Linked DNA regions of Homo sapiens: region 1 is linked to region 2. Evidence: fine-mapped expression QTL. Tissue or cell type: lung. Region 2 holds a variant in brackets; the other region holds the start of a gene. Each region is shown on its reference strand, or each on the opposite one. Region 1 holds the start of RBP2 (retinol binding protein 2). Region 2 has its middle 120 kb from the start of LINC01505.

The links.
Region 1: it holds the start of RBP2, and the variant in region 2 is fine-mapped to the expression of RBP2 in lung (TOPMed, PIP above 0.99).

Annotation. Positions count from the first base shown.
Region 1 is chr3:139,475,169-139,478,087 of GRCh38, forward strand. It overlaps RBP2 (retinol binding protein 2), which reads right to left and starts at 1,348. Exons shown (of 4, transcript NM_004164.3): 1 at 1,219-1,348. The coding sequence starts at 1,291. The region is part of intron 3 of COPB2-DT (COPB2 divergent transcript); the gene reads left to right.
Region 2 is chr9:106,732,827-106,735,745 of GRCh38, forward strand. No RefSeq gene overlaps it. Among named protein-coding and RNA genes, the nearest start is that of LINC01505, 120 kb to the left of the region's middle. The variant T/C (reference allele first, on the strand shown) is at 1,523.

The DNA of each region.
Region 1 (2,919 bases), not on the chromosome of region 2:
AATTAGCCAGGCGTGGTGGCGGGTGCCTGTAGTCCCAGCTACTCTGGAGGCTGAGGCAGGAGAATGGCATGAACCCGGGAGGTGGGCTTGCAGTGAGCTGAGATCGCGCCACTGCACTCCAGCCTGGGCGACAGAGCGAGACTCTGTCCCCAAAATAAAAAAAAAAAAAAAAAAAAAAAAGAACATGAAGAAAGTGCTTAGTTCCACAAATATGGAACATATCACAGCTCTCCTTTTTCATTGACATGGTGGACATTTTCAAGCTAGAAGTTTATCACACCAAAAAACTCATGATTTCCACTCTTGGAGAGACCTCCCACCATCATATCCAAGTTATTATTGGGCCTCTAACTCCACCCACTGCCGTTTCTCTCATTCTGCATGTGGAGGAAGTTCCAGCGAAGTTACCCCATATGTGGAGAACTTTAAAGCTAGAAGAGGTGATAAAGAGGCTGCTGAGGGATGGAATAAGGTCAGGCAGCCAAAGCCCCTTGCTCAGCACCTGGAGCACAGGAGCCACCCAGTAACTGTGAGCTCCCCTCTGGGGACCCACTCACTCTAGTCCCAGGCAGAACCTGTAGGCTGGGCAGGGCTATGTGTTTTCTGCCAGTTCCACAGGGAACCCACTCTGTGGTGAACTCAGGACATGCACCAATTGGTAGCCCTTGGCCTGGAACCCAGTTCAGAAGTCATATAAGCAGTGGGTTGTTTGTGCTATCTGACAACAGCCTCTCTAGGCTTCCATGAGCTTGATTTTCCCTAGGCTGAGAGATTTGCTAGCTATTTCTTTTCTGCTTCCCCATTACAAAACTGATAAAAGAACAATGCAGAGGTCATTGGTGGATAATATCAGGTCCAAGTGGTTATCAGAGAGATGGTGGTCACAAGGCAGAAGAGCGACTGTGTTATCCTCTCAAGTTTGGCTTTACTCTGTTGTGTGTGTATCCTCCTGACATACACATTCAGTGTATGTTTTCTGTGGGCCAGGCACTGTGCTAAGGCATCCTAGACATAATCTCATTTATCATTATTCCCAGTTTCCAGATGAGAAAACTGAGCCTCAGAGAATTCTTATGATCTGCCTAATATTGCACAGCTGTACATGAGGCATGAGGATTTGCCACAGGTCTGTTGAACTCCATAGCAGCACTGTCTGGAGGGCCAGACCACAGTACTCCCAACAACAGCTACCCTCCCCATCCCCAGTCTCCTCCTTACCCAGGGCCTTCATGTAGCCCTCAAAGTTTTCATTACTCTCCATCTCCCAGGTTCCATTCTGGTCCCTTGTCATGGTGGTGGCCACTGGTTCGGTGAGGGTTTGTGGTGGATGGCAAGGAGCAGGCTGCAGGGAGAATACACTGGAATGAGCTTCTTTTATAGCCTAGTGGGCCAGGTTTGTGACTCTGAAGATAAGAGGTTCAAAGGGCAGAAGCACAACTCAAAAGAACTTTTCTTTGTAAAGTTCAGCGAGACTATAGGTAACCCACGAACAAAGTCCTGGTATGGCCAGGCGTGGGTGTCCTAGTGTCCTGCACCATAAGCAGGGCCCTAGAGCAGCTCATTTTTGGCTGGCTGGGTCCCCATGGGCCCCTTGTCCCACACAGAACATTTCATCCAGTAATGGAAGAAAACAAACATCCAGGGTCTACCCCACATGTACTATGGGTCACTAGTACCCAGGCCTCAAGCCTGGAGTCTATCAGCCATGAATCCAGCACTCATAGCAAGGCTGGTGAAACTGAAAAGACAGAATTCACACCTGTGGAGCTCTACTCTACTCTGTTCCAGGCAGCATGCATACTTCATCTTGTTTCAGCTTACAAGAGCTCTGTGAGTTATGTTTAACCATCCTTATTTTACAGATGAGAAAGGATCATGGAGGTTAAATCACATGTCTAATCACAACTTGTAAGTGGTTGAGCCAGGATTCAAACTCAGATCTGTTGGGCTCCAAATCCTTTTCTTCAACAGTGTGCTAGGTCAGCTTTGAAAGAGGTTTGGAGCCTGACTTAAGAGACCAAATCTCTCTTGCTTCCCTGTGGAAGCAAGGTGCCCTGTGGACTTCCTAGCAGCAGGGTGAGACATGAGAAAAGTGTTTTCTGGGAACATGATTCTGCTAAAAGCAAGCTGAGCCTGGAGGGAGTCCAGATGGAGGCAGAGGGGTAGTGGAATGTTGTTTTAAGATCCAAGGGGAAAGCTGAGGATCACCTGGATCAAAGTGGGGGCATAGCTGGACAAGGACCCTTGGTTCAGGAATGTTCTCCAAATGGGCTGTCCCAATGGAAATGGGTTTAGTTTATTGCTCTGACACTCTATTCCAAGATGTGGTGTCTGAGAAGTGACTGTGAAGAATGGAGGTGTGGCCTGAGACAGATATACCATGAGTTCCCAAAGTGAGACCTATTTTGATGATGACACTGCAGCTCTCATATATGTATCCTTGTGCTGTGAAATCTAAGTAAATGACTCTGTGTGTGGTACGAGGGATATAAAACAGCACATTTATCTTTCAGTAAATACACTGGAGTTAGGAAGACAGAGTGAAAAATGGCCCAGCTGTTGTCAAAAGGCCAATGGGGAAAGGTAAGGGGTGAGAAAGAAATAACTTTACCACAAATGGAAAATGAGTGGAGGAAGGAGTAGACAGATAAGAAACCTTGGAGATTCATCCTGTGAAGTCCAGCCAGAAGCTGCTGTAGACTGAGCATTCAGCCTCCTGGGCTGGAGAAGTAGATAGTCCCTCCCAGGTCAAATTCCAGGGCCTCCACCGTCCCTCCTGCCTGCAACTGAGGCCTCCTACCCCGTAGGCCTCTCCTGTAAGAATGTGTAATGAGAAGCTGGCCTGGTAGGGGAAGGGGCTGGGGGCAAGACAGGAGTTGCTAATTGCACTAAGCCAGGGGCTTGGGTTTTCATGGGCAT
Region 2 (2,919 bases):
AATAGACATACAAATAATTTAATCTTTACTGCAGTCTTTCATAAACATACCCAAAGCGAGAACATAGAAAAACTTCCTAAAACCTCTCTTCTCCCATTTCTTTCCTTCCTTTCCCCCGATATGCCTAGGCTCACCTAAAGTCTCTCTTCTCCCCAACTCTAAGCTCCCACTCCAAGATATTCTTCAAGCCCACCTTCAGGTTCTTTTGTCTCCCTTCCTAAGCTCTTCATATCTGTATCATTTCAGCCTCCCTGACTTCTTAGAACTTTCCGGTAAGAGCCCTGGAGCTAACTCAATAAACAAAAAAAATTCTTCCAGGCTAGGACATAGGGTAAGGGAAAAAAAATTGAAAAAATAAATTATTTTAGTTTGTCTTATTCCTGTCACATTTACAGTGTACACTCTGCATGGAATACTGTTGGCCCATTTCTAACATCAATACCCCACTCAATAGTTAAAGCCCAGAACAAAAGATCGTCCTCGAAACATTCCATGATGCCCTCTTAGAGAACTTTGCACATTCTATCTTTTCTTATAGCTTTTGGTGTAAATGTCTTATTTCTACTTTTGAAAACTGAGACTCAAGGTCATCTGTAAAACCCTTATTTCCCTTCAATACTCACCTAAATATCACTTCTAGGGCAAAGAGTTTCCTCTATACTCACCCAAAAATTTTTTCCAGGGCAATGGCTTCCCTCACTTTCTTTCTAGCCTTGGCTTGGTTATTTCTTTGATGCCACAGCAACTGGCACTAACCTGATATATCATAATGAAATTCTGTGGATTATTTACGTGTCTGTTTTGCCTTCTCTCACCCCGAACATGTATACTTTGAAAACAGGAAAATCTCTTATTCATCCCCAAACTTATCCAAGTACTCAGCCAAAACATGTTCTCAGAAAATGTGTGTGTACAATGTCATGTTTATGAAGTTATGTATTCTCCACAATATCTGTTTCTATACTGTACTCATTGTAGATTCTCGAAAAGTGTATTTGGAATTGAATTGAACATATATGAAACATTCAGCTTGATTGATTTTCTTCTTTGACATAACTTTATCTGTTTGGTGGTCTAAAAAGGTTTTCAAAGTGAAAAACTGGTGGAGAGAAAACAAAGGATTAAAAATAAACTAGTTTGACCAGTTTCTTTCCCTGTGGATATAAAGCCAAACTTGGAGCTTTGTCTAAGGAAATCACACTGCCAGGCAAAAGATAATAGGCTGAGAGTGGGTCCTTCTTTTGCAGCCTGCAAGGCTGCAAGACCTTTCATTTCTGTATTAGAATATTCTGTTATACTAGGCTCATGTGGCTCCTTTGGTTAATGGTGACAGAAAATGTCACTCCAGGGCCACATAACTGCAAATACTACTGGCCTAGAAGCTGAAACAGATTGATACTATTGGCAAACCACACCTAGGCGGCTTTTTATAAGAGGCGGGAGAAAATAGAGTGATTAAACATAATCACTCTTATGCATCGTGCAACTAATCTCCAACATCCCTGGACTGCTCTCCAGGCTC[T/C]ATAACTTACACCCAATCCATGGAGGTAGGCCCATTAACTATGTTTCCAGTACATAAAGGAGTCTACAAACAAAAATTCATTAATTCTTTCAAAATTCAGTCCTTCTCCTGTGGAGCAGGAGCTTGGAGGAAAAAGGATATTTTTTTGGCAAAGGTTTTGAGTCAGAAGTTCAAGGTAGAGGCAGCCTGGGGAAGAAAAATACTGTTGGTGCCTATGCTCCCTGCTAGCTCCAGCCCCAGGAGTGGGTTATGAACCCATTCCCCTTGAACAGACATTGGTTTGCATGGTGGTATGGTTGTAATTCCAGCCAATGAGGTGTGAGCTGGAGAACTGTGGGAAAGCATATCTTTTCAAAAAAAAAAATCAACAAAAGACACATAAGAAAAGCTGGTCTCTTCTTTTTCTCTGGACATTGTCTTGTCTGGCTGTGTTATGTACAACTGCAGCAGCCATTTTGCAACCAAGAGAGAATCGTAGGCTGAGAATAAAGACAACAGTGGCAGATGTGAAAGAAAAAAAGACCCTCATTCTTGATACTACCATCTCTCTACTGAATAACCAACACTGGAGACCCCTTACTTCTGAATTTCTTGTAATATGAAATAATACATTTCCTTATTGTATTAGCCACTTAGAATTAGGGGGTTTTTTTGTTTTTGTTTTTTTTTGTTTTGTTTTGAGACGGAGTCTCACTCCTGTTGCCCAGTGGTGCAATCTTGGCTCACTGTAACCTCTGCCTCCCAGGTTCAAGTGATTCTTCTGCTTCGGTCTCCCAAGTAGCTAGGACAACAGGCATGTGCCACCACACTTTCATTACTTGAAGCCAAAATAATCTTAATACATTTGGATTACTGAATTAGTTAAAACTTTTGAGGATTATTTTTTTTTTAAGCATAGTTCTTGCACCTACTCCATCACAACAAACAGGTGAGAACCAGTACCTGTCTCAGCCACTTCCTCTTCATATCCCAGACCCCATGCTCGGCTGTGGACCATGTTACTGGTCTTCATCCTCAGCTGAGTGACCCATTGATTTACTAGATTAGGTCTAGACTGAACTATTGATTCTATTAATATATAGTCCCTTAATTACATGCCCAAATCACATACCACCCCTTCCCTCCTCCTTTAGACTTCTAGAACACCCACTTGATAAGCCAGCCTCCTGACACCTGTTGCAAGAAAGGGAATTTAGAACACATGCGGGCAGAGGCAAACTATATGATCTACTCCATGTTCTTGCACTGCATTTATTATGTTTCTGTCCATAGCCAGCACTTGGTTAAGCTCAGTGAATTAAAGGACAAGTTACCTAACCTCTGAGGGAAACTCAAGCTCTGAAAAGCCATTCCTCAAGCAACTACCTGGATATTCCTGTTTTTGAATGCATGAGTTT